4 linked regions of the Homo sapiens genome follow. The protein of the gene in region 3 interacts with the protein of the main gene of each other region in a biochemical or structural test. Each region holds a gene or a part of one and is shown on either strand. Other genes may lie near its edges.

What was found.
Region 1: the proteins of CRK (region 3) and DOCK1 form a complex in vitro, tested with the Homo sapiens proteins (3 studies listed by BioGRID and IntAct, with this or other methods).
Region 2: the proteins of CRK (region 3) and ERBB3 form a complex in vitro, tested with the Homo sapiens proteins (2 studies listed by BioGRID and IntAct, with this or other methods).
Region 4: the proteins of CRK (region 3) and BCAR1 form a complex in vitro, tested with the Homo sapiens proteins (2 studies listed by BioGRID, with this or other methods).

What each region holds. Positions count from the first base shown.
Region 1 is NC_000010.11:126,901,554-126,908,434, forward strand, and holds the start of DOCK1 (dedicator of cytokinesis protein 1), read left to right. Parts: upstream 1-3,874; 5' UTR 3,875-3,964; coding exon 3,965-4,010; intron 4,011-4,177; exon of another isoform or gene 4,178-6,881. UniProt on the Homo sapiens protein: Involved in cytoskeletal rearrangements required for phagocytosis of apoptotic cells and cell motility. Along with DOCK1, mediates CRK/CRKL regulation of epithelial and endothelial cell spreading and migration on type IV collagen.
Region 2 is NC_000012.12:56,090,154-56,097,176, forward strand, and holds part of ERBB3 (receptor tyrosine-protein kinase erbB-3 isoform 1 precursor), read left to right. Parts: intron 1-2,593; coding exon 2,594-2,667; intron 2,668-2,832; coding exon 2,833-2,923; intron 2,924-3,191; coding exon 3,192-3,397; intron 3,398-3,610; coding exon 3,611-3,743; intron 3,744-3,945; coding exon 3,946-4,036; intron 4,037-4,248; coding exon 4,249-4,403; intron 4,404-5,103; coding exon 5,104-5,157; intron 5,158-5,511; coding exon 5,512-5,653; intron 5,654-6,349; coding exon 6,350-6,469; intron 6,470-6,594; coding exon 6,595-6,693; intron 6,694-6,891; coding exon 6,892-7,023. UniProt on the Homo sapiens protein: Tyrosine-protein kinase that plays an essential role as cell surface receptor for neuregulins.
Region 3 is NC_000017.11:1,453,227-1,460,564, reverse strand, and holds the start of CRK (adapter molecule crk), read left to right. Parts: upstream 1-4,332; 5' UTR 4,333-4,447; coding exon 4,448-4,688; intron 4,689-7,338. UniProt on the Homo sapiens protein: Involved in cell branching and adhesion mediated by BCAR1-CRK-RAPGEF1 signaling and activation of RAP1.
Region 4 is NC_000016.10:75,227,676-75,234,642, forward strand, and holds the end of BCAR1 (breast cancer anti-estrogen resistance protein 1), read right to left. Parts: intron 6,261-6,967; coding exon 6,171-6,260; intron 2,349-6,170; coding exon 1,836-2,348; 3' UTR 506-1,835; downstream 1-505. UniProt on the Homo sapiens protein: Docking protein which plays a central coordinating role for tyrosine kinase-based signaling related to cell adhesion. Implicated in induction of cell migration and cell branching. Involved in the BCAR3-mediated inhibition of TGFB signaling.

The sequences.
Region 1 (6,881 bases), on a different chromosome or scaffold from region 3:
TGGGATTACAGGTGCCTGCCACCATGCCCAGATATTTTTTTTTAGTAGAGATGGGGTTTCACCACGTTGGCCAGACTAGTCTTGAACTCCTGACCTCAGGTGATCTGCCCATCTCGGCCTCCCAAAGTGCTCAGAGTTACAGGCATGAGCCACGGTGCCTGGCCTGTTTCACTGTATTTCTTATGGTGTCACTTGTTCCTCAACCTCCTCTATTTCCTGTAAGCACGAAGTTGGGTCTAAAGTCTTGAATATACACTTTTGGGCTGGGTGGCATTGTGCATTGTGACTACATGCCTGGTCATCCAGTATGATGCCCAGATCTCCCACTGAATCCAAGAGGCAGTGGGCATAGGCCTTGTTCCTCTCCTTTCAAAGGGCAAAAAATCTGTGGTCAGGCCCCTTTTCCTGCATAAAATCTCCACATCCCTGTTCCATTCTCATCTCTCCCCACCGACTGAGAAACATGCCCCATTGACTCACTGTGCCTTCTGGTACCTCCACCAGGCAAGATTTTGCTGAATTTACCTCCTGAATTTGCAGTGCACATGTGTGAAATTTTTTGGAATTAAAAAAATTAAAACTGTACTTTTCAAGATTTAAAACTGTAATATTGATTGTGTTCTTCATGGCCCCAAAGCAAGATTCTGTTGTATCTTGGAGGAGGGGGGTCACTACTCTGAAATCCCAGTGATGGGCAGCACTGAGCAACTGAGAGCCTCAGCATTCTTGGGCTTGTTCACACCCACAAGCTTGGCACAGATCCAAGTCCTGCAAGATGCCTGGGAGGGCAACTGAGACCTGTGGCCCAGCCACATTGACTCAGGAGGTAAAAATGTCAACAGGCCACAACCTCCAGGGCTCCTGGAATTGGAGACGAAGCCAGTTCTGAGCTTATGCAACCATAGGACAGTGAGAGAGGGCCATGGACTCGATTTAGAGCCACAAGATGAGAGCACTGCTGGAGCACCGTGGGGATGCTGACAAATCTTCTCAGGGCTTCAAGGACCGTGGCTACAGGTACATCTCAGCCAAACTTGGGCACATGTTGCAATCAAGGGACTGAAGCTACAACCACCTGGCCCGTGGTCCACCTGGAGTTTTGTTTTGTTTGTTTTTGAGATGGAGTCTCACTCTGTCACCCAGGCAGGAGTGCAGCGGTGCGATCTTGCTTCACTGCAATCTCCACCTCCTGGGTTCAAACAATTCTCCTGCCTCAGCCTCCTGAGTAGCTGGGACTACAGGTATGCGCACCCACGCCCAGCTAATTTTTGTATTTTTAGTACAGACAGGGTTTCTACTAAAACCCTGGTTGGCCAGGCTGACCTCGAGCTCCTGACCTCAAGTGATCTGCCTGCCTCAGCCTCCCAAAATGCTGGCTGGGATTACAAGCATGGGCCACTGTGCCCGGCCCCACCTGGAGTTTTAAAATTCTGATTTATAAATTTATTATATGACAGTCTACCAAAAGTATGCAAATCCGGCACTACACTTATTTATGCATTCAGTGAGTCACCTTTATCTGAGTGCAAGTGGCAACTGTTCTAGAAAATGGGAACCATGAGGTTATCAAAGAACCTGGAGGTAGGGTCAGATGAGGAAGCACATCATTATGATGTCTTACACATGCAGTCATGTCTCCTCTTATAATCCTAAGACTCACCTGTGAGATTCCTATTACAGCCCCTAGTTTACATGTAGGAATATCAGAACCCCAAGGTTTAGAAACAGAACGGCCAGAAACAGGAGGAGGATGGCCATGCAGCTGGGCGTGGCAAGGCCAGGCCTCCCAAGTCTGCATGACTCTTAAGCTCCTGGCCATTCGTTACAGCACGCCATCTCCAATGCAGAATCACACCAACAGAACTGAAACTGCACATTAAAGAGAAGGCGAGTGTCACCAAAATCTGTTTCCCAGGCTTCTTTGCAGAATTCCAAATTCCTAGCACGACCAATAAGGCCCTTCTTCTACCTCTGCAGCCTCAATTTATGTCACTTTCCTGTTGTTCCCTATGCTTCGGCCATCCTGGCCTTTCTGTGCTCTGAAGGAGTGGTGCTCCTTCCTAAACCAGGGCCTTTTCACGTGCTGTTCCCACTCCAGTTCACCTAGCTGGTTTCTGCTTATCCTTAAAGTCTGGGTTTATCTTATTTCCTCAAGGGAGGCCTCCCTGCTCTGGAGCAGGTCAGGCCACCATGTCCTTTACCGTAGAGCACCCTACTTGTCCTGGACAGCACCTTCACAGATGCTTCTCCTTCAAGGGGTCAGAGTCACCAGGCCACCACTACAGCGCCTGAGCCCCGGAGGTTTCTGATTTCCACAGAAAGCTTCAAGTGCATGCTGTGTGTGAGTGAGCCTGGCCACTTCCTCTGTGGGACTTCAGTTCCTTATCAGTAAAACAGAGCCCGTGGCTTTCCATGAATGTGGGGTTGACTTACCAGAATGCTCAGGTCCCACGTTATCCTCTTGAACGCAGCAGCTTTCCTCTAACCCACGAAAATGGAAAAGCTCCTGTGCCATTCCCAAATACTTATTTAATCTGCATTCTGGGTGGCCCCTAGGGCAGGTGACGGGCATTCTCTACCGCAGGATGGTGCCCCACCTGGTCCTCCCCAGGCCCTGTGGCCATCCTGGCCACCTCCCTGTGGGCTCTCCCAGCCCTGCTGTTCAGCACTGTCCCTACCTCACAGAGGTAGGGACCTCTTTTTCTTACCTTCTTCCTTTTCTTACCTTCGTTCCTCCAATCCCTGACGGCCCCCAGACCTACTGTAGTTGTCTCTGTGTCTTCGGAGAGAAGACACCCCATTAATGTGCCATGAAACCAAATTTATTCCATTTAAAGGGCTGCCTTCATTCGGAGGCTTTGTCCATGTCTTGGTTTTAACCTCTCTTTTCTGAAATTACAGTAAAAATAAATAGGTGTGTGTTGCTTTAACTTTTCCCTTGGAGAAATCTGAAGCCCCCACCTTTTACTGTCATGGGAAACACCAGGGCCTGAGAAGAACTCCCACCTCGGGCGAGGATGCCGTTCCTGAGCCCCACGCGTGGCCTGGGCTTTCCTTTCCCTACTTCTCTCTTCCCCCGACTTCAGCAGATCCTGAGTCCCACAACTATTCTAGCATTAGCTTCTGCAAGCCCAGCTGGGCTGAGGTTTCTGCGGCTGCTTCCTCTTGGTCTCTCTGGAAAACTCCACTCATTCAGCACCCAAGCAAGAGGTCACCTGTCTGGAACGCACTCCCTCGGCAGCGCTGTGCCACCTCTTTCCACCCCATTTGAGTGGCCGGCACTTACCTGTGCTGTTTGTTACCTGACGTGTCCCTTCTCCCACCTACCAGGCAGTTGGTGCGGCGCTCCCAGCACACTCGGGCAATGAGTGGGCAGGCGCTCAGGTAACGTTTGTCGAATGAATGAATGAGCCACGTGCTCAGGAGGACCCTTTCCAGAGCCTCTGCTGGTTTGTTCTGCTCCGGGACTCTCCACCAGGGAGAAATCCGAGCTGGGGACCTCGCACCACCAGGCTCCGGCCTAAGCCCGCGCCTTGCAAGCCGCCCGTTTCCTACCTCCCGTAGAAACCCCCCGTCCGTCCCGCCCCCCTAAGGGCGCACCCCTCTCACGGCGTGAGCGCCAGCCCCGGGAGCTCCAGGAACTCAGGAGAACCCCGCGGGGGTGCCCGGGTGCGGAGCGCGGGGCTGGGCGCACTGGGACAGAGGAAGGGGAGCCCCGGCGACCGCGGGGTCGGGGCCCAGGGTCCGCGCCGAGGGCGGGCGCAGAGCCCGCGGCCGTCCCGCCTCCCGCCGGCGCTCCCGGCCTTTCCCATCCGGCCCGCGACGCTCCGCCCGCCCCGTCCCACATGACGCCGCCTCCGCCGCAAACTTTTTCCTCCCCATCCTGTCGCGGCTCGAAAGGAATGGAAAATGGCGGCCTAGACGCGGAGTTTCCTGCCCGACCCGCGGCGGCTCCGGCGGCGCCATGACGCGCTGGGTGCCCACCAAGCGCGAGGAGAAGTACGGCGTGGGTGAGCAGCGCCGCCGCCGCCGCGCCTCTCGCCCCAAGCCCAGGCTCCGGCGGGGCGGGTGTGCCGGGCGCCTGTTGCCGCCGCCCCGAGCGGCCGCCGGGCCGGGGAGAGGCGCTTCCGCCCGCGCCCGCGCCGCCGCCCCGCTCGCAATGCCCGGCGACCCCGGCCGCCCCGCGCCCCCGGCGGCGTCAGCTCCAGCCCCGGGGATGCGGGTCGGGAACACGAGGGGGTGGGGTGGGAATGGGGGCGGGCGCGTCCCTCCCTAGGGTGTCCCCTCCGACGCCCGCTCCTCTGGACCTCTGCCGTGGAGCCCCCCGGGCTACCCCCAACTCCCCGGCCCCGGCCGCTGCTATCTGCGCGGCTGGGCCCGTCAGGGAAGCCCAGGGGTCACTGTCTCGCGGCGGCTTCTGCTTCTTGGATGAACTTGCGTCCCGCGTCCGGGCTCTGGGTGGGCGGGCTCAGGTCGGCGCGGTCCCAGCGGATAATTCCGCCCTTTCCCGGCGGGGAGGAGGGGGCGCGACCTGGGTGGCCAGCGCCCCTTGCCCCTCGGCGGTCTCGCTGGGGACCGTGTGGGACCTTGGAGAGAAGGCGAGCGGCCGAGCGCCCCAGTGGCCCCAGGCCTGGAGACCCTTCCGGGAGAGCGGGGGCCTGTTTTTGCTCCGCGGCTCTTTGTCGCTTCCGAGGGGGGATGGAAGGAGTCGGGTTGCAAGTTTACATTTCGGACCCGAGTGCGCATTCCTGAGAGGGAGGCTTTCCCTTGCGGCTGAATAGACGGGCCCGTCCGCGTGGGACCCGCATCCTTGCGCCCCGGGGACCCGCAGCCGGTCGCCGAGGCCTGCGGACGCCCACCTCTTCGTGATCTGCGCGCCTGGTGTCGGGACTGGGCCGTGGCTACTCTCCTGCTCTCCCGGGTCCGGGATCTTCCCAGTTGGTTTTCGGGCTTGCTATTCCCCGTCCCACCATCCACAGACATCCTTGACCGCCTGCCTCATCCAGGCCACTCGACCCGACTGGGAAGACCTTTGGTGGTCTCGCCTCCCACAGCCCAGGCTGTGTCCTCCAAGGGCACCGTCTCAGCAGCAGCCCCGCGCCCATTCTGTGCCTGGCCCGTGCTGGACCTGCCCGACCCTCTGCTGGTGTGGTTCGAATCCTGGCTCTCTGACTTTTGGGAAGCGCCCTGGCAGCCCTTGTCCCCGGAGCGCTCTCCTTTCTGTGAACAGTTGCTTCTCTCTGCTGTCAATGACTTACAGTATGCCCTGACCACGGAGCCAGCTGGACAGTGGTCACGGGGACAGTCCTGGGACAGCCCTGGGTCCTACCGGGCCTGCACTTAGCTTGTTCCACATGCTGGGAGGCATAGGGGGCCTCCTTGCTTCAGGACCATTATGACTGAGCTTCCTCCCCATCTCCCCATTTTGCAGATGAGGAAACTGAGGCCCAGACACATTCACAAAAGTGCAGGAGAGCTCATCTGACTGCAGACTCAGTGTGTAACCTGCACCCTGTGCACCACCTAATGGATTCAGTCTGGGGCACTTGGCACGGGCCTTCAGTCTGCATCAGAGGCGAGAGGTTCGGGGTGGATATTCCACCTGAGAATGCTTGGGTTGTGGCGACAGTGGGGGTCCCTGCGGGGGTAGTGTGTAGAGGAGAGAGCTGAGGACTGACTCCCAGGGAACCTAGCACCAGCACACGCAGAGAGAGAGGAAGAGGTGGATAGGCAGGAGAGGCAGGAGGCTGGCAGAGGAGCAGGCATCCCATAGCCCTGGCCCTGCTGAGGAAGCAACTTAGGTGCCCATGGCCAGGGTGCAGTAGTGGCCATTGGGGGTGTAGTGGGGGCCATCGGGGTGCAGTGGGGGCCATCACTGCTCCCATTCTACAGAGGCAAGGAAGAGGTGGATTGCTTGCCTGAGGTCACATCACCAGTAAGTGGTGCCTCCTGGGTGTGAAGTGTGGCCGCCCTGGGTTCAGCTGCCACAGTGTCCTGTGCTTGCCTGCAGATGGGGAGGGCTTCTCTTTGGGACGCCACATTTTAAGAGACCTTGTTACCCTTCGTCTGCCCCCAGAGAGACCTGGATGGTGTCAGTTAGGATCCTATAGTGTAGCTGGATGGTCTGGAGAAGACTGAAAAGAATGTTCGTAGATGGGAGAACGGGGTCTCCTTGCTGGGGAGGAGGCTGAGGGCCAGAACAGGGCGGTGCGCTTGAGTCTCACACCTTCCAGAAGCTTCACCAGCGCTCATGGTGGTGACTTCTAACATCACACCTCTTGCTAATACTTTGGTTTTAAGAAAACTCCATGTTTGATTATTAAGAAAAAATAAATTTAAAAAAGTTAAAAAAAGAAAAAATAGAAAACTGTTGGAAAATTTTAAAAGGCGAAAAGTATCTGGGATGGTTTTGCCAGGAAATGCTAGGAAAGATGTGAAGGGCTGAAGGTAGAGAAGAGAGTGGCTGCTGTGCTTCCTCTCACTGGGTGCAGATGACAGCTTGCTGGGTAGACAGTAATGAGACAGCACCACTCCATCGGCATCCAGAGGCACTTTAACCAGAGTCCCCCATCAGGGAGGGTGGGAGGGGAGCTGAGCATGAGCGCAATGGGGCCATCCCAGGCTCCCCACTTGTCTGCAAGTGTGCAGTGGGAGGATTTTAGTGGTTCTCACGAAGGATGCTGACTGGGAAGGATGTAGGTGCTGGGATGTAGGGATTTATTGCCAGTAGGTGATTGGCTGTTTCCACCTAAGGGAAAATTACTGGAGGACCCCTCCACCATCCTTACCAACTCCAGCATTTTTCGGAGCTTAACAACAGGGCTGTGTTTCCCTGGAGGCGCTCTGGTGGCTCTGTGGGTGGACCACACTTCCACTCTGGC
Region 2 (7,023 bases), on a different chromosome or scaffold from region 3:
CATGCCCGGCTAATTTTTGTATTTTTAGTAGAGACAGGGTTTCACCATGTAGGCCAGGCTGGTCTCGAACTCCTGACCTCAAGTGATCCACCCGCCCCAGCTTCCCAAAGTGTTGGGATTACAAGTGTGAGCCACCGCGTCTGGCCCCCCATACACTCTTTTACCCAGATCCTCCAAATGTTAACATACCACATATGGCCGGGCACAGTGGCTCATGCCTATAATCCCAGCACTTTGGGAGGCTGAGGCAGGTGGATCACTAGGTGTGGATCACGAGGTCAAGAGATTGAGACCATCCTGGCCAACATGGTGAAACCTCATCTCTACTAAAAATACAAAAATTAGCTGGGCGTGGTGGTGTGCGCCTGTAGTCCCAGTTACTCAGGAGGCTGAGGCAGGAGAATAGCTTGAACCTGGCAGGCAGAGGTTGCAGTGAGCCGAGATCGCGGCACTGCACTCCAGCCTGGTGAAAGAGCGAGACTCTGTCCCCCGCCAAAAAAAATACCACATACGCTTTATCACTTCTCTCTCTCTCTGTCTCTCTCTACACACACACACACACACACAAAACACATGCTATTGTTTTTCTGGACCACGTGAGGGTAAATTTTCACACATGGTTCTTTCTTACCCCTGTTATATTTCAGCGTATATTCCTTAAAAATAATATTTTCTTACATAACCACAGCATAGTTGTTTGAATCGGAAAATTAACATTAACACAAAATATTATCTAAGCTACAGACCTTATTCAGATTTCACTAATTGTCCTCCTAAGGTTTGGGATCATACATTACATTCAGTTATCGTGGCACTTCAATCTCCTTTATAACAGCTCCTCAGGTTTTGTTTATCTTTCATGATATTCTTGATGAGTATAGATTAGGTAATGGGCAGCATGTTCTTCAGTTTGGATTAGTTTGATGTGTCCTCATGATTAGATTCAAGTTTTTGTAGTTTTTTTTTGAGACAAGGTCTGGCTCTATTGCCCAGGCTGGAATACAGTGGCATGATCTCAGCTCACTGCAACCTCTGCCTCCCGTGCTCAAGCGAGCACCTCAGCCCCCTGAGTAGCTGGGATTACAGGTGCATGCCACCATGCTTGGCTAATTTTATATATATATATATATATATATATATATAAATAATATATATAAATATAAATATATATATATAAATAATATATATAAATATATATAAACATAAATATTATATACTATTTATATATTTATATATGTGTGTGTATATATATATATATTTTTTTTTTTTTTTGAGACGGAGTCTCGCTCTTGTTGCCCAGGCTGGAGTGCAGTGGCGTGATCTCAGCTCACGCAACCTCCACCTCTCAGGTTCAAGCCATTCTCTATAGAGACAGGGTTGCACCATGTTGTCCAGGATGGTCTCGAACTCATGAGCTCAAGTGATCCTCCTGTCTCAGCCTCCCAAAGTGCTGGGATTATAGGCATGCGCCGCTGCCAGGCTGGAGTTTGATAAGAACACCACAGAGGCTGTGAGCTCAGGGCATCCTATTGAGGATGTACGTGATGTTGATTTGTCCCAGCACTCACAATGATGTCTCTGGTCACTTAGTTAAGGTGATATCTGTCAGGTTTTTCTACTGTAAAGTTACTATTTTTCCATTCACAATTAATGAATGTCTTGGGATAATTGCCTGAATCAATTATTGTTATGATAGTTGCCAAATGATAATTTTCTAATTCCATTATTCCTTCTGCATTTGTTTGTTGGCATTCTACTGTTAGGAAGAGTCTTTCCAGCTGAGCACAGTGGCTTATGCCTGTAATCTCAGCCCTTTGGGAGCCAGTGGGAAAATTGCTTGGGCCCAGGAGTTCAAGGTTACAGTGAGCTATGATGGCACTACTGCTCTCCAGCCAGTGCACTCACTCTGCACAACAGAGTGAGACCCTGTCTCTTAAAAAAAAAAAAAAAAAAAGGCCAGGTGCAGTGGCTCATGCCTGTAATTCCAGCACTTTGGGAGGCCGAGGCGGGCGGATCACAAGGTCAGGAGTTCAAGACCAGCCTGGCCAGCATGGTGAAACCCTGTCTCTACTAAAAATACAAAAAATTAGCCAGGCATGGTGGTGTGCTCCTGTATTCCCAGCTACTTAGGAAGCTGAGGCAGGAGAATCACTTGAACCCAGGAGGTGGAGGTTGCAGTGAGCTGAGATTGCTGCCACTGTACTCCAGCCTGGGCGATAGAGCAAGACTCTGTCTCAAAAAAAAAAAAAAAAAAAAAAAAAAAAAAAGGTCTTCCTTTCCTATTTACTCTTATGGATACTTATTTTATTCTAGTCAATGGTTATAATCCTTTACAATCATTATTTATTTTAGCCAGCCCCTCCAAGTTGGCTCCTGTGTTCTTTGGGCTGTACCCTTAATTCTTTGAGTCTTGTCTTGTTTGCACAAGATGCTCTGGGCTTATATTATATTTCCCCCATCCCAGCCATTTCTCCAAGGAATGTTTCCTTTTAGTGGAGAATGATATTTAGAAACCAAATGCTGAGGCTGGGTGTGCTCATTGCCATTGAGTTATACCTTTACCTTATTGACTGGTTTCTACTGTTCTATTCAGAGACCCCTGGCACAAGATCCCTGCCCTGGACCCAGAGAAGCTCAATGTCTTCCGGACAGTACGGGAGATCACAGGTGAGTGGCAGAGAGTTTGCCCTTTCTAGAAGAATAGGTGAACCACTGGCATAAATTGCGGTATAACTACTTGAGAAAATCACGTCCCAAGTTATAGGGGAGGAGCCAGGAGAACCCAAGAAAGAAGAAGGCTCCCTGCCCATATGCCTCTCTCCAACCCCTCAGGTTACCTGAACATCCAGTCCTGGCCGCCCCACATGCACAACTTCAGTGTTTTTTCCAATTTGACAACCATTGGAGGCAGAAGCCTCTACAAGTGAGTAAAGGGTATGGAGGAAATGGCATCTTCAGGCAATGAAGCCTGTGTCATAGGCATTCTTTAGTAAAATACAAGGCACTGTCTCATACAGCAGTGCCTCAAAACCAAAGGGTTTCAGAGTTTCACGAGGAAAAGGCAAAAGGAGGGGGATTCCCTCTCAGTGGATCTGACTAGCACTGAGCAAATTTCTTGACTAACATGAATCCTTTGAATAGTTAATGTTCCCTTAGTAGTCTCTCCTCTCATCCTGTCTCCTTATTCTCAGCCGGGGCTTCTCATTGTTGATCATGAAGAACTTGAATGTCACATCTCTGGGCTTCCGATCCCTGAAGGAAATTAGTGCTGGGCGTATCTATATAAGTGCCAATAGGCAGCTCTGCTACCACCACTCTTTGAACTGGACCAAGGTGCTTCGGGGGCCTACGGAAGAGCGACTAGACATCAAGCATAATCGGCCGCGCAGAGACTGCGGTGAGGGAAAGGGTCTGCTAGGTGGTGAGAATAGGGAGTCAGGGAGGAGAGGGCTGAAAGGACTATTCTGCCCTAGACGTGGGAGTAGGGTTGAGGGATGGAACCAAGGAGAAGGGGGCTGTTAGGCTGGAAGCAGTAACGAGGAAGAATAATGAAGAGAGGGCTTGCTGGGAGTCCTCAGACTCCTCTCCTAACCCACCCCTTCCTTTCCAGTGGCAGAGGGCAAAGTGTGTGACCCACTGTGCTCCTCTGGGGGATGCTGGGGCCCAGGCCCTGGTCAGTGCTTGTCCTGTCGAAATTATAGCCGAGGAGGTGTCTGTGTGACCCACTGCAACTTTCTGAATGGGTACAGTAAGGGGAGCCAGTCAAGGATGGGTGGGGGTGGGGCCCTGCAATGGAACTGTTCAGGTGGCATACAATAAAAGTCTTTAGACAGCTTTCTGCATGTGCCTTGGTGGGATTGAGGTAGGAGACCTGTGGTTGTGAGATCGGAGCATGAAGGTCAGGACTTGGAAGTGACCCCCCCCTCCCTTTATTCCCCACTACAGGGAGCCTCGAGAATTTGCCCATGAGGCCGAATGCTTCTCCTGCCACCCGGAATGCCAACCCATGGAGGGCACTGCCACATGCAATGGCTCGGTATACTAGTAGCACCAGGATCTCCAAGGGAGACAGAGAAGGGGCAATACTTGGAGCATCTGGGGAATGATATGGCTAAGGATAGCACAGAGAGGCCAGATAATGCTAGGGCCTGCAGATAGAAGATCCTGAATGTCTGGGTTGGTCTTTGCTGGGAGGTATGGAATTGACCTTGGGATCTGATTCTTCCTGACCTTCTCTCTTCCACTCAGGGCTCTGATACTTGTGCTCAATGTGCCCATTTTCGAGATGGGCCCCACTGTGTGAGCAGCTGCCCCCATGGAGTCCTAGGTGCCAAGGGCCCAATCTACAAGTACCCAGATGTTCAGAATGAATGTCGGCCCTGCCATGAGAACTGCACCCAGGGGTCAGTGATGGGATAATAAGGAGAGGGGGTCAGGTGGAAGGGTAGGAGCACAGAACTAGAGTGAGGGAAGCAGAAAGAAGAGAGAGGCTGTGATTCAAGAATCACTCCCAGCTGGCCGGGCGCAGTGGCTCACACCTGTAATCCCAGCACTGTGGGAGGCCGAGGTGGGTGGATCACCTGAGGTCGGGAGTTCGAGACCAGCCTGACCAATATGGAGAAACCCTGTCTCTACCAAAAATTTAAAATTAGCCCGGCGTGGTGGCGCATGCCTGTAATCCCAGCTACGCGGGAGGCTGAGGCAGGAGAATTTCTTGAACCCAGGAGGCAGAGGTTGCGGTGAGCTGAGATTGCATCATTGTACTCCAGCCTGGGCAACAAGAGTGAAACTCTGTCTCAAAAAAAAAAAAAGAATCACTCCCAGCTGTGTAGCGAAGGATTGGAGAAAGGGAAAATCAGTAACAGCACAAAATTACACCACAGTTTTGGGAACCTGGAATAACCTCAGTTCAAGGGAGTTTCACAGAAGAGGGGCTTGGGGAGAGCTAGTGAGCTGGAGGTGGAGGCCATGTCTTGGGATCAGCTCTGGGCTCCAGGATGGGATGCCACGGTAAGTTCTGAAACAAGCTTTTATATGTTAGGCTGTTGAAATTGAGCCTCTGCTGTCCAAGCTCTCATTTAAGGTGGTGACTTTCTTCCCTAGGTGTAAAGGACCAGAGCTTCAAGACTGTTTAGGACAAACACTGGTGCTGATCGGGTATGATGGGGTTGGAGATTCTGGAAACTGGGGATATTTGGGAGTTGGGAGAGAGGTGGTTACCTGGAGAGAAGAGGGAGGCTGTCTTCATTCTGGCCTTTTATGTATGCAGTCCACTATCACTGGACACTTGGGACTCAAGAATGCAGGCTTCTGGACTTCCCTTCCTAAAATTAACTTTCAGTAGTCTAAGACTGGTCCAGATTTAGGTTGGTCCCTTCAGTGCTTAAGGATATATATGTGAATGTTAATTTCTTGCCCCAGGTCAGCATCATACCTTCAACACAAGTATAGTTGACATTTGTAAGGAAGATGCAAACCCAGGATAATGTTGGGTTTCTATATATCCCATAGCAAAACCCATCTGACAATGGCTTTGACAGTGATAGCAGGATTGGTAGTGATTTTCATGATGCTGGGCGGCACTTTTCTCTACTGGCGTGGGCGCCGGATTCAGAATAAAAGGGCTATGAGGCGATACTTGGAACGGGGTGAGGTGAGTACTTAGCTTACTTTTGTTTTTTCTTTTCTTTTTTTGCATGTCCTGGAAGTCTCTTTATAGCTTAATTTTGAGTGGTACCCTGTGCACCCAGGGGTCAGTGATGGGATAAATGTCACTCCCCTCCTCTTTCCCCAGAGATTTGATCCCTTTCTTCAAGGAAGTAGTGTGGTCCCCTAGAAGAACACTGGTCAGAGAAATGGGAGGCATGCATTCTAGTCCTGATTTTGCCATTAATTTGCCACATGACTTTGAAGAAGTTACTTATCTTCTCTGTGCCTCGGTTTATGCATCTATACAGAGGAAATAACATTTGTCCTTCCAGGATGGCTGTAAGGGTAAAGGGGGATGATGTATGTGAAAGTGCTTTGGAAAGCACAGAGCACTGTATAAAAGGTACTCAAGGTGGTAATAGTACTACCAACTCTCCCTAGCTGTCCCCTTCCCCACTTTGTGCTCCTCCATCAAAGGGAAAACCCAACCCCTTTGATTCCTGATCTCATGAGCACAAATAACTTCCTCAGTTCTCAGGGTCTGTACCTCAATATGCCTATAATCCATTCCAGGACTAACGGTGCTTCCTCTTCCTGCCCTTTCAGCTGTGCTGCTTTTGGCATTCACCTATGAGGAGCGGGTTGGAGTGGGACATGGGAATGGCCTTTCCTGAGTAACTCCTTCCCATTTGCTCCTCAGAGCATAGAGCCTCTGGACCCCAGTGAGAAGGCTAACAAAGTCTTGGCCAGAATCTTCAAAGAGACAGAGCTAAGGAAGCTTAAAGTGCTTGGCTCGGGTGTCTTTGGAACTGTGCACAAAGTGAGTGACCCATAGGAATTCTGGAGAGGTGGGGAAGGCATCTAGGGCAAAGGGGTGAAAGATTTTTGCATAGGATTGACCTAGGGAGAATGACCTTATGCCAACTCCTGCCCCAAACTTCCCAGGGAGTGTGGATCCCTGAGGGTGAATCAATCAAGATTCCAGTCTGCATTAAAGTCATTGAGGACAAGAGTGGACGGCAGAGTTTTCAAGCTGTGACAGATGTAAGTGAAGGAAATTCTGTATGCCGCTAGGAGAGAGGACAATATTAGATACAATCATGTAGAAGCAGGGTCCTGTGCTTCTCAGCAGCTACTATGTTAGCCAGAATGTTGGGGGTGGGGGGGCCTGGGCTGGCTGTGCACATGCTGAGTGTATGTGAACCTGTTGGTTTCCTAGATAATACCTTTTGTGTCTCTTAGCATATGCTGGCCATTGGCAGCCTGGACCATGCCCACATTGTAAGGCTGCTGGGACTATGCCCAGGGTCATCTCTGCAGCTTGTCACTCAATATTTGCCTCTGGGTTCTCTGCTGGATCATGTGAGACAACAC
Region 3 (7,338 bases):
TAATTTCCGTATGCCCTAGGGAGGGATCTCAGAGGGACTGCTTTGGAACAGGCAGTCTCTGGGTAAGGTCCAGAGCTCACAGACCAGCCAGAATTCACACTGGGACGGCTGCTTCTGCTGGCTCACGGTGCCAGGCTGTCACTAAGCCAGGGTCACGATGAGTCACCTGCAGCAGGAAAGGTGCCCTTGTGCCTCCCAGTCCCCCACCCCCCACTTCCCCAGAGCAGGCCCAAGGGTGTGTAAGGTGAGTCCAGCAGGACTGTGTTATTCCTTAGACCATAATCCACAGCTTACTGCTTTTTTAAAAATGTAGATTTCTGCCAACCCTTCCTCCCAATTCCTATCTCAGAAAATTGAGGGTAGAGCAGAGTGACCATAGCTGTCTCTCCTTCCAGGATTTGAACCCTAGCTCCTCACTCTGCGACCATGTCTCTCTGGACACATTACTTAAACTCTCTGAGCTTCAGTTTTCTCTTTTGTAAGATGGGGATACTTGTCAAATAAGGTTGTTGAGAGGATTAAATGAGATGATCCATACAAAGGCAGTCAGCACTGTGCCTGGCAGATGGTCATCTCTGAATCAATGTTAGCGGTCCTGAATGCTTCTGGAGCACCTCATAGACTAGCTGCTTGGCCTTTGAGGACATACACAGAACTGCAAATGAAAAATTACAGTAAAATGGGTAAGAGCTGTCATGGGAATAATTTGGACATACTGCTGTTGATGAAGAGAGGGAGTGATGGGATGGTTAAGAAAGGGAAGACATTTGGGCCGGGTGCGGTGGCTCACGCCTGTCATCCCAGCACTTTGGGAGGCCAAGGCAGGCAGATCACAAAGTCAGGAGATCAAGACCATCCTGGCTAACACGGTGAAACCCTGTCTCTACTAAAAAAAAAAAAAAAAAAATTATCCAGGCGCGGTGGCGGGCGCCTGTAGTCCCAGCTACTCGGGAGGCTGAGGCAGGAGAATGGCGTGAACCCGGGAGGCGGAGCTTGCAGTGAGCCAGGATCGCGCCACTGCACTCCAGCCTGGGCGACAGAGCGAGACTCCGACTCAAAAACAAAAAAAAAAAAAAAAAAAAAAAGAAAAAGAAAAAAAGAAAGGGAAGACATTTGAATTTGAGACTCCAAAGTGGGTAGAAGAACATTCCAGGAAAAAGAAACCCAGCATTCACATAGGAGCAGTTAAACGAGACTGTGGACCAGCACAGTGGTACCTCTATAATCCCAGCTACTGAGGAGGCTGAGGAAGGAGGACCCCTGGAGCCCAGGAATTAGAGTCCAACCTGGGCACCATAAGAAGACCTCATCTCTTTTTTTTTTTTTCTGAGACGGAGTCTCACTCTATCGCCCAGGCTGGAGTGCAGTGGCTCGATCTCAGCTCACTGCAAGCTCCGCCTCCTGGGTTCACCCATTCTCCTGCCTCAGCCTCCTGAGTAGCTGGGACTACAGGCGCCCGCCACCACGCCCAGCTAATTTTTTTTGTATTTTTAGTAGAGACCGCGTTTCACCGTGTTAGCCAGGATGGTGTCGATCTCCTGACCTCGTGATCCACCTGCCTCAGCCTCCCAAAATGCTGGGATTACTGGCGTGAGCCACAGCGACCAGCTGACCTCATCTCTTAAAAAAATGATGATTATTATTTTAGAGAGGTGGTCTCACTCTGTCACCTGGGCTGAAGTGCTGTGGCATGATCATAGCTCAATACAGCCTCGAACTCCTGGGCTCAAGTGATCCACCCGCCTCAGGTTCCTGAGTAGCTGGGACTATAGCTGGATGTGCCACCACGCTCGGCTATAAAGAAAAACAATGTTTTTTGAGATGGAGTCTCGCTCTGTCGCCCAGGCTGGAGTGCAATGGCGCGATCTCACCTCACTGCAACCTCTGCCTCCCGGGTTCAAGTGATTCTCCTGTCTCAGCCTCCCGAGTAGCTGGGACTTCAGGCACCTGCCAGCACATCCGGCTAATTTTTTGTATTTTCAGTAGAGATGAGGTTTTGCCATGTTGGCCAGGCTGGTCTCGAACTCCTGACCTCCTGGCCTCCCAAAGTGCTGGGATTACAAGCATGAGCCACTATGCCTGGCCAGAAAAAATTTTTAATTAAAAAAAAATGAGCCTGGCCAATATGGTGAAACCCCGTCTCTACTGAAAATACAAACATTAGCCGGGCGTGGTGGCGGGTGCCTGTAGTCCCAGCTACTCGGGAGGCTGAGGCAGGGATAATCGCTTGAATCCGGGAGGCGGAGATTGCAGTGAGCCGAGATCACGCCACTGCACTCCAGCCTGGGCAACAGAGCAGGAATCCATCTAAAAAAAAAAAAAAGAGAGAGAGAGACTGTGGCCCAATTTTATGCTCTGAGCTAAACTGGGAGTTTGAACACCTGAAGACTGTTAAAAGTTTTACACAAGGTAGCAACACATTCAGATTTGTATACATATATATATATTTTTGAGACAGGATCTCCCTCTGTCACCCAGGCTGGAGTGCAGTGGCATGATTTCGGCTCACTGCAACCTCCGCCTCCTGGGTTCAAGCGATTCTCCTGCCTCATCCTCCTGAGTAGCTGGGATTACAGGCGCCCGCTAACACACCTGGCTAATTTTTGTATTTTTAGTAGAGACCGGGCTTCACCATATTGGTCAGCCCGGTCTCGAACTTCTGACCTCAGGTGATCTGCCAGCCACAGCCTCCCAAAGTGTTGGGATTACAGGCATGAGCCACGGCGCCCGGCCAGATCTGTATTTTAGAAAACTCAGTGGGAGTTGTTTGCAGTGCGATTAGGGGCAGCCAGACGAAAGAGCACCAGCGAGCACGACACTCGTAGGAACACAGTCCAGAGGCAATCATGAGGGCAGTGAGAGTAGGAGATGCCCCTGGCTACAATTTAGTGTTTAGAATTATCTGGGCAGGTGACCCCAAAGCCTCAAAAGAGAAGAGAACTCTGTACTTCACGTGGCTTGGTACACTCTGCTCCCTTTGCTTTGAATGTCCTTCCCCGCCGAGTGCGGTGGCTCACGCCTGTAATCCCAGCACTTTGGGAGGCCGAGGTGGGCGGATCTCAAGGTCAGGAGATCGAGACCAGCCTGGCTAACACGGTGAAACCCCATCTCTACTAAAAATACAAAAAGTTAGCCGGGCGTGGTGGCGGGTGCCTGCAGTCCCAGCAACTCGGGAGGCTGAGGCAGGAGAATGGCGTGAACCCGGGAGGCGGAGCTTGCAGTGAGCCGAGATCACGCCCAGGCACTCCAGCCTGGGCGACAGAGCGAGACTCCATCTCAAAAAAAAAAAAAAAAAAAAAAGAAAGAATGTCCTTCCCCATTTGTCATTCAGCAGTCAACACATGCTGCCTCCTCTGGGAAGCCCTCCTGGATTACTCCATAGACTGGCTGTGGGGGCTCTGCTCTGTGTTCATGTCCGTTTCCCATGATAGCGTTTGTCAGCATTTGTCATCCTTTTGTCATCCAGTTTCCTGGTTCCTCTCACTGGTCTGTGAGTTCGAGGAGTGCAGGGCCCAGCCATGATAACCTTTGCACCCGCAGTGCAAGTGGAGTGTCAACAACAATGTCCTAGGTGAATCAATGAAAATGAGAACGTCAGCTGGTCTGTGGAGAAGCTAGAGGAACGAGCAGAAACGGACCGACGTGGCCGGGCGCGATGTTTCTCGCCTGTAATCCCAGCACTTTGGGAGGCCGAGGCGGGCGGATCACCTGAGGTCAGGAGATTGAGACCATCCTGGCCGACATGGTGAAACCCCCGTCTCTACTAAAAATACAAAAAACAGCCGGGCGCGGTGGCTCACGCCTGTAGTCTCAGCTACTCGGGAGGCTGACGCAGGAGAATCGCTTGAACCCGGGAGCAGTGAGCCGAGATCGCGCCATTGCACTCCAGCGTGGGCGACAGAACAAGACTCCGTCTCAAAAAGAAAAAGAAAAAAGAAACAGACTGATATCGCAGGAAGCCTGGCCGAGAACTCAGGCCCCAGGGCCACACGCATCTTTTCTCCTCCAATTCTGTCTGGGAGTCGCTGCCTAGAAGTCCCAGGTCGTCCAGGAACCGGGGCCCAGACGAGAAGCACCGCTCTGTCCGCAGCGCAGGCGCGCGTCTCTGCGGGAGGCTGCGAGGCCCCGCCCCTCGGGCCCTAGACCCCGCCTCCCATCCCCCGCAGCCCGGGCCCGGGAAGGGCGGCACCGCCCATGAATCCGCATGCGCAGTGCGCGCGCGAGGGCGCCTTGCCCTTCTCCCAATGGCGGGCCGCGGGCCCCTTCCCGGCAGCCTCCCTCGGGCAGGGAGCGCGTCATTTCCGGAGGGGGAGGCCCGCGGCTGCCGCCGCCATTTCGGGCGCTGCTGTGAAGCTGAAACCGGAGCCGGTCCGCTGGGCGGCGGGCGCCGGGGGCCGGAGGGGCGCGCGCGGCGGCGGCACCCCAGCGTTTAGGCGCGGAGGCAGCCATGGCGGGCAACTTCGACTCGGAGGAGCGGAGTAGCTGGTACTGGGGGAGGTTGAGTCGGCAGGAGGCGGTGGCGCTGCTGCAGGGCCAGCGGCACGGGGTGTTCCTGGTGCGGGACTCGAGCACCAGCCCCGGGGACTATGTGCTCAGCGTCTCAGAGAACTCGCGCGTCTCCCACTACATCATCAACAGCAGCGGCCCGCGCCCGCCGGTGCCACCGTCGCCCGCCCAGCCTCCGCCCGGTGAGGGACTGACGGGACGGCGGGCCCTGGGCGGGGTGAGGGCCGCGGAACTCCCAGCCTGGCTGGCTGGTCCTCGAGAGCGGACCCTCGGGGGTCGTGGGCAGAGGGCTGGGTGACCGTGGCAGGGGCCCGCCGGCTGCTCGGGCTCGCTCTCACCCGGGGAGCAGGAGTGTGGGGGAGGAGGAGCCGCGGACCGAGGCCCCGGGGTGTGCCTGGGGAGGGCAGCCGCGGGGAAGGGGAACTGCTTCGGCCCCAGGGTGGGGCTGGCTCCCGGGCCAGGCGCAAGGGTAGGGCAGGGCAAGGCAACGTGGGGACAAAGAGCTGAGGGAGATGTTGGCACTGCGGGGGCATCACTTGGCAGCGGCGCCCAGAATGAATCCGATAATCCTACAAGTGGCTTTTAGGCTGGAAACGTTTCCTGCCGTGTTGGAGAGCCGGGTTTGGCCGTGCTCCCCTGGTGGCCTTTGGTAGGAAGTCACCACATACTGGCCGGGAGGGATGGAGACACCCTCAGGAAACCGGTCAATTTTTTCCTTTCTTGGGCATTTTTCCAAAATCTTTGTACCGTTCTCTTCCCCCGTGGAGGACGAAGGTGGTGAACTAAGTGCTAGAAGAAATAGTGGTAGCAGAAAGCCTTCAGTGACCAGCCCAACCCAGTTTAAGGCGATGCCTGGCTATGTGCAAGAGATCTAAGCGTCCAGAAGACTGTCCGCCGTTAGAGAGTTCTGGTTTTCAAAGTGTTTAGTGGAGGAAAGACATTTTATTCCACAAAATAAACCAGAAGTGAGGCAATGGAAACAGACCCTTCCCTGTAAGTGACTGGAACTTCATTTTCCTTGGACTTAAACATTGTCGGTGTGTACTTCAGGGCGTCACCTTGCTCAGTAAGATGGGGCTGCGGGCTGAGTCTTCCTGGATATTGGGAACAGACTCTACGCCAAGAACATAAATTACCTGCGCTGGGTTTTCCTTGCCAGGGAGGGATCCCTGAGATTGACTGTCTTACCGATGCCGTTGGAGTTGATTTGGGACTGTTTTAAGGGAATAGATAGATGCCCTTAGTACTGGAGATTTGTGAGGTACAAAGTAATTCTGGGGTTCTCATTGTATGTGTACCTGTGTAACAGCATCAGGAGTCCTCGTGCCTTCACGCTGTTGCCAAGTCGAAGCAGTTTCTTCTTGGCCAGCTGAGAATGGGTTCAGACTAGTCTCATATGAATCAGGAAGCTCTTGAGCCGTCCTTTGTAGACTTGCCCTTGTAGAATAGTTCTAATTTAGATTTACTCGCTCCGGCCAGAAATAGAGAATTGGATAGGCAGTCTCTTTGTTAACACACACCAATTTTTATTTTACTCTTTTCTAAGACGGAGTCTTGCTCTGTCACCCACGCTGGAGCACAGTGGCGCAATCTCGGCTCACGGCGATTCTCCTGTCTCAGTCTCCCAAGTAGCTGGGATTACAGGCACCCGCCACCATAACCAGCTAATGTTGTATTTTTCGTAGAGACGAAGTTTCACCAGGTTGGCCAGGCTGGTCTCGAACTCCTGACCTCAGGTGATCCACCAGCCTCGGCCTCCCAAAGTGCTGGGATTACAGGCAAGAGCCACCGCGCCTGGCCAACACATACTAATTTTTTTAAAATTTTTCTTATTTATTTCTTACTTATTTATTTATTTTGAGACGGAGTCTCTCTGTCGCCCAGGCTGGAGTGCAGTGGCGCGATCTTGGCTCACTGCAACCTTTGCCTTTTGGGTTCAAGTGATTCTGCCTCAGCCTCCTGAGTAGCTGGGATTGCTGGTGTGCATCACCACCACGCCCAGCTAATTTTTTGTATTTTTAGTAGAGATGGGGTTTTACCAGGTTGGCCAGATTGGTCTTGAACTCCTGATCTCAGGTGATCCACTCGCCTTTGCCTCCCAAAATGCTGGGATTACAGGCGTGGGCCACCGCACCCAGCTTTGTTTGTTTGAGGCGGAGTTTCGCTTTTGTTGCCCAGGCTGGAGTGCGATGGTGCAATCTCAGCTCACTGCAATCTCTACCTCCCCGGGTTCAAAGGATTCTCCTGTCTCAGCCTCCCTAGTAGCTGGGATTACAGGCACACTCCACTACGCCTGGCTAGTTTTTGTATTTTTAGTAGGGTTGGGGTTTCGCCAAGTTGACCAGGCTGGTCTCGAACTCCTGACCTCAGGTGATCTGCCCACCTCAGACTCCCAAAGTGTTGGGATTACAGGCGTGAGCCACCACACCCAGTCTAACACAACCATTTTTTAAAAATGAGTATGGGGTCTATAAGCTCACAAATTATCCTAGATCTTTCTCATTGTGGCCTGTTTAATAGTATTATGAGATGGGAATATTGATGTACCTGTGTTGGCCCTGAACCAGATATATTCTACTTTGATGCCACCTGCATAGTATCTGGGGTTTTGCATTATATGTCGTCACATGATGGCAAACTGTCATTGAAACTCACTTTTCAGCCTTTTGTTTGTGTTTGTTGGTTGCCAAAGTTGAAAATGGCAGCAGGCAGGTTTGTTAGTTTGATATTTTTTCATATCTTAGCATAACGATTTTATGTCTCAACACTTACCGTGATAATCGAGCACCACCTTTTCAAAACAGATAAGAACTCAGTTCCTTGGCTGAGGAA
Region 4 (6,967 bases), on a different chromosome or scaffold from region 3:
TCACAGCTTCCTGAACCAGGCAGGCGAGGCTGCCTGGGGACTTCCTCCTCTTCCCAGCCCTCTGAGCTGGAAGCGTCAGCTCATGGGATGAATGGCGCCCCGGCATGGATGAAAGCCACTTGCCCCAGCTCCCTCCAGGAGTGTGCATGGCAGAGCTGGGGCTGCCACGTGAACCCAGGCCTCAGGACCCTGGCACAGCCCCTGCACCCACACTTGCCATTTCTCCGCACCCCTCCCTGGACTCCGCCAGGTTAGGGTCTCCCAGGCCCTGGCACCCAGTTCAGGCCTGGAGACACCTCCTCTCCTTCCTGCAGGGTGACTCCGACAGCCCTTGCCTGCCAGGATGGAGCCTGGACTCTGGAGGGCATCGTGTCCTGGAGCAGCACCAGCACCTCCTGTTGTCACCAGGCGTGGATGCCCGCATCATGAAATTCATGCCTGGGAAGGCGTGGAGGCCGAGACCACCCCCCCTACCCCGCATCTGTGTAAAACACAAATAAAGCCATTGAGAGCAACTGCATACACCTTTACCTCTGTGTCCTCACCAAGGCAGGTGGGCTGAGCATGATGTGGCTGAGGTGGGGGGACAGATGCTGTCACGGGGACAACCTCTGTAGAGGTAAGATCAGGAGGGCTTGCGAATCACCCAGCCCTACTCCCTTCTTCATACAGATGGGGAAACCAAGGCCCATGTTCATATGCAGAACGGTCAGGGCTGGGAGCAGCACCAGGGGTTCCAAGCACCCTGAAGCTTCCATCTGGGCTGCGGGCTGCTGGGTGGGGGAGCCACGAAGGGGGACACACTTGCCCAGGGCAAGGGTCTTCTCCAAGCCCCTCCCTCCCAACTCAGATGCCAGGTCCAGGTATAATTCCATGTGCACTTCGGGAGTTCCGCAGGCTGGGATGAGATTCTTTTAAGCAGAGCTCTGGATGCAGCCCCCAGCGGTGCCCTCGGCTCACAGGAACCCGTCCCCTTGTGCAGCTGTTCCTGCCCCAATCTGCCCTCACTCCAGATGCCAGCTGTGGGCATGGGCAGGTGCTCACTGTGGCAGCTCCCTAGGGTTGCAGGGGCCATGCCCAGGCTGTGCTTTCTGGGCCCCAGACCCTGCAGCTCTGAAACTGCCCCCTTTCTTGGGCCCAGGCTCTGCCCTGGCTCCCAGGGCCTTGTGGCCAGCTGCAGGCCTCACCCCGCCTCCAGGAGACACCCAGCCTCGGCGTTCCTTGGTTTTCTTCTAGAGAGACCCACTCCTCCTCTGCCCTCCCGGGAGATGCCACGCATGGCCCTTGCCCCCGGGTGCCTTCCCCAGAACCGTCACCCACCCCGGGCTGCTCTCATCTGCCACCCTCAGGCAGCTGCTCTTCCTTTTAAAAACTTTATTTAAATGGAGACTCTTAGTCAAATGATTGGAAAACCAATAACGAAAAATAGTTCTTCAGGTTCTTCTCCTGGTAAGGCGGAGGACACACCAAACTGCACTGGCCCTGTCAGGGGACACGGCACCCTCGTGGGACCAGGCTCAGCCCTCGGGGTGGCACGAGGTCCTGCAGGCTGCAGGACCCTCACACTCCAGCCCCGTCTGGTGACCCAACCCGGGCCCGTGGTGCATGCTGGGGAAGGCCACTGGCCGGCCCCTGGGCTTCGGCTCCTGAGGAGGCATGGCCCCACACCCTGCCCGGCCATAAATATATACAGATTCCTGGGCATCCAGGGCACCAGGACCGACGCAGAGCTGGGGTCCTGTCCCTAAGCCTGTGGCACAGCGACTCTTGACATGGGAGCCAGGGAGCTGGGACCGCCGCACCCCTCCCCTGCCTCCCTCCTGGGGTCACCACCCTCAGGCGGCTGCCAGCTGGCCTAGGACGCGGCGGAACTGCTGGGTGCTGTGGCCCAGCTCCTTGACCCTCTCCACCATGTCCTGGGCCGCGGAAGGCGATGGGTACTGCAAGGCAGCGGCCTTGGTGGTGGCCACGATGCCGCGCAGGAGGTCGCACAGCAGGTTGCTGTAGTGGGTCACCTGGCTGCGCACGTCAGCAGCCTTGGCCTGCCGTGACAGTGTGTCCCCGATGAACACCAGCTTGTGGGCGCTGAGGATGACGAACTTGCTGTGCGCCACAAAGATCTTGGGCGGCTGGTTGGTGGCCACGGCGGTAAAGAAGGCGTCCACGGCGTTGGTCAGTGTGGTCAGGTTGGCCTCACACTGCTCCAGGTAGAAGAGCAGCAGCTGCCGGTCCGAGGGCCCCAGGCCGCCTGTTCGCCCCGGGGCCAGGGGTTGGGCTGGCGTCCAGTTGGCCAGGTCGTGGTCTATGGGCCGTGACACCTCCTGTTCCAGTCGTTCAAACTGCTTCAGCTGGGGCAGGAGGGAAGCAGGAGCAGGGTTAGGCTCTCGGGTGAGTTGGAACTACAGGCCGAGACCTGGGCACCCTGGGCTGGGCTTCTCTAAAAGGGCCGCTACTCAGAGTGCATGGGACTGCAGGGAAACGGGCAGTCTCCTCTCCCGGGGACGGGACCAGGAACCATGGCAAGCCTTCTGGAGGTTGTTCAGTTACCCTTCCACCAGTCTCAAAAGGTCAGACTCCGTGCCCTGAACATTTTTGAAATGACAAGATGGACAACAGAAAAGTGGCTGCCTGGGGTCGGGGGGTCACCGTCCTGGCTTGGGTACTGTCCCACGTGACTTGAGACGTGGCACTGGGGAAAATGGCTGAAGGGCACTGGGGACCCCTCGACCCTATCTTTGCAACTTCCTGTGAATCTATAAATATTTCAAAATGGAAGGTTAAAAAAATTTTCCCCTTAGTTCAAAAGTAACATACACATTATAAAAAGATTCAAATATATCAAACAGAAAAAACGAAGATGTCACCTGTAATCCAATGCCCCTAAATAGAACCTCTGCTAAATCATCTTCCAGAACCACACACGAAAGTTAACATTTCCACTCCCGTGCCTAGGAGTCAGCTGAAGGGGACAATGTGTCCTCACTAGAGCCGCTCTGGCTCCGGAAGTGACCAGCCACACCCAGACTCAGGACTGGTAAGCTCTGTGCCACCCTAGGCGCAAAGATCCAAGCCACAATGAGCAAAACCAATAGGAAACCTCCCCTTCCTAACACTTAGAACCTCGCACTGTCCCCCTTAGGCAGCCACTTGGTGAAATCCTCCATCTCTCCGTTCCCTTAGCCAGTGAGATACATACTCCGCTTTTTTTCTTTGAAAAGCTCTGATGAGGCAGGGTGAGGTGGCTCATGCCTGTGATCCCAGCACTTTGGGAGGCTGAGGCAGGTGAATCACTTGAGTCTGGGAAGTCCAGGCTGCAGTGAGCCCTGACAGAGCACAGGCAACAAGCTTTGTGGGGTTTTTTTTTTTTCAATACTATTTTTATTTTTATAAAGAAGGAGTCTTGATCTGTCACCCAGGCTAATCTTTTTTTTTTTTTTTTTAAATGGAGTCTTGCTCTATCGCCCAGGCTGAAGTGAAGTGGCACGATCTCGGCTCGCTGCAACCTCTGCCTCCTGGGTTCAAGCGATTCTCCTGCTTCAGCTGGGATTACAGGCCTGCGCCACCACCCCTGGCTAATTTTTGTATTTTTGGTAAAGATGGGGTTTCACCATGTTGGCCAAGCTGGTCTCAAACTCCTGACCTCAGATGATCCTCCCGCCTCTGTCTCCCAAAGTGATGGGATTACAAGCGTGAGCCACTGCACCCAGCCCTTTTTATTCTTTGACAACTCTTCATAGTTATATAATATCCCACTGCATAAATGTCCATACTTTATTGAATCAATACTCTCCTATTAGACACTTTGTGGGTGGAGATTTCAGATTCTTCACCGATACAAAAATGGGGCAACAGATGTTCTCATCAGTAAGTCTTCATGGACTTGCATTTAACATGGACTTTATGTCCTTGGCCTTGGAATTCTACATCTTTAAAGTTCTTCACATATATTCTTGCCCTTTAATCCAGCTTCTAGCAAGTTATCTAAGTGATTCATCAGATACGTGCAAAGACTAGTATTCATCACAGCACTGTTCACAAAAGTAAAACTCTGGGAACAGCCTAAGTGTCCAACAGCAGGGGACTGGTGAAGTCAGTGCTGGAGGCACACAGAGGACGGACAAAGTACACGACCACTTCTGAAAACACGGCGATCCCAGAGTTCTCTCTCTAGACAGAGATATAGACCTATATATTGTTGATATTTCAGGAGGTTTTTTGTTTTTGAGACGGAGTTTCGCTCTTGTTGCCCAGGCTAGAGTGCAGTGGTGCGATCTCGGCTCACCGCAACCTCCGCCTCCTGGGTTCAAGCGATTCTCCTGCCTCAGCCTCCCAAGTAGCTGGGATTACAGGCATGTGCCACCATGCCCAGCTAATTGTTTTGTATTTTTAGTAGAGATGGGGTTTCTCCATGTTGGTCAGGCTGGTCTCGAACTCCCGACCTCAGGTGATCCGCCCGCCTCGGCACCCAGGAGGTTTTTAAAACAATTTTATTTTATTTTTTTTGAGACGGAATCTCACCCTGTCGCCCAGGCTGGAGTGCAGTGGCGCAATCTCGGCTCACTGCAAGCTCCGCCTCCTGGGTTCAAATGATTCTCCTGCCTCAGCTTCCCAAGTAGCTGGGACTACAGGCGTGTGCCACTATGCTGGCCAATTTTTGTATTTTTAGTAGAGATGGGGTTTTGCCATGTTGACCAGGCTGGTCTCAAACTCGTGACCTCAAGTGATCTGCCCGCCTTGGCCTCCCAATGTGCTGGGATTACAAGTGTGAGCCACTGTGCCTGGCCACAATTTGTATTAATGTATACAGACTTGGGTCTCACTACGTGGCCTGGCTGGTCTCAAACCCTTGGCCTCAAGTGATCCTCCTGCCTCAGCCTCCTAAAGTGTTAGGATTACAGGTGTGACATTTATTCTTTTCTTGGGTGTTTTCTTTAGTAGATTTAACAGGGGTGCAGGTGCAGTTTTGTTATGTGGGTACAATGTACCCATTAGGTAATTTCTCAGCCCCCACCCCCTGCCACCCTGCCACCGTTCTGAGATGTCAATGTCTAGCCTCTCCTGAGTGTCTCCATGTGCCAGGTACTTCCCAGGCATCTTCCACTTTTCAGTGATTCTCACCGAGCTCTCATGAGGCGGCTGCAGCCTCACTGCTGTGTGTCGTGGGTCTCAGGCCCCTGCCTCTGCCACCTCCTTGGTGCCCAGAAGGTAGGCGAGGGAGATTTGACGGGTGATATTTTTATGTTCACTTCGTGCTATCCTGTATTTTCACTTTTAAAATTATCTTCATAATCAGAATAAAGCTCCCTTAGTGTTTTTTTACATACCTCTTTCCTACCCTGAAGAACTGATTCAAAATATGAGGAAAATTCTATTAACATGTCTGCATATAAACACAGCAGTATATTTATAATAAGGGGCCAGATGTGGTGGCTCACACTATAATCCCAGCACTTTGGGAGGCCAAGGCAGGTGGATCGTTTGAGCCCAGGTGTTTGAGACCAGCCTGGGCAATGTGGTGAAACCTTTGTCTCTATAAAAAATATAAAAATCAGCCAGGTGTGGTGGCAGGCGCCTGTAATCCCAACTACTGGGGAGGCTGAGGCAGGAGAATCGCTTGAGCCCAGAAGGTTGAGGCTGCAGTGAGTTGAGATCGCATCACTGTACTCTAGCCTGTGTGACAGAACAAGATTCTGTGTCAAAAAAAAAAAAATACTAAGGAAGTGTGGGTACAATACAAACATTCAATAGACGCTAAGTGGTCTTTGAAAGAATCCACAAGAATGCTTAACGCCATGGCAGATGCTGGGACAGAAGAGTCGAATGCCCACAGGACACCATCCCGGCCATGCAGGGAGCAGCTTGGAGGAAGGAGCAGGGCAGAGCCAGCCCCGTGCTGAGCCTATGGCAGCTGTGAGGGGTCTATTTTCTGCTCTCACCCCACTCTCTAATTCCCTAAATGTCTCCAACAATTACTCTTGAAAACTTTAAAATAAACCAAGTGAAAAGATGAAGATGGTCAGGAGGCAGGGGGGTGGCAGGCCGGGCCCAGCTCTGAGCACTGTCAGACAACATGAGAAGCTGGGGACCCGGGGTCGGCCCTGCAGGGCAAGAGCTGGGGGCTCAGGGGGTCAGCGGGCAAAGCTGGGCCTTGCTCTGCTCCGGGGCCTCACCTGCTGCAACTCCAGCTGGCTCTTGCCCTGCCGCGTGATGCTGCCCTTTTCCAGCAGCTCCTTCTGGGTCTTCTCAAACTCCTCCTTCCCCTGGAGGGCAGAGACAGGGGCTGCGCTGAGGCCAGTTTTCTGAGCCAGAAGCACAGGCCAGCCCTGTGGCGGGCGCAGTGAGCTGAGTGGCCACCAGGTGGTGCTGCGTGTGCGCGCACACACACGCACACGTGGACGCACACACACACTAGCACACGTGGACACACACACACACACAAGCACACGTGAACACACACACAGACTGGCACGTGCAGGGGCAGGCAGACAGACACACACACACACACACACACACACACACACACACACTCCCCCAGGCTGGCATATGTGGGACACAGCCCCCCCAGGCTGGCACATGCGGGGACACACAGAGAAGGTGGCTTCCTAGGAAGCAACCCTGGCAGCCCCTTTCACCGCCTGCCAGCTCAGGAAGAGACTGGGCAGAGGGTGGGGTACCCGCAGAAAGTCCGCAAGCTCCACCCTGCCTTCCCAGGCTCCAACACCAGGAATCACACCCAATCCCTCCCCCTTGGCCTAAAGGCCTGGCCACCTGGTCCCTGCCCCTGGATGCCTCTCTGGCCCAGCTCAGCCTGGAATGTTCCTTACCAGGACTCCCACCCGGCTAGCACCCAGGCCTCTGCTCCAGGGGCCAGCCTGGGAGGAGCAGTCCCAGCCACCTCCCACCACCTCCTGCTGCTCCCCCACGCTCAGAGCATCCTTGTGTGTGTGCACATTTCTGCAGATCTGTC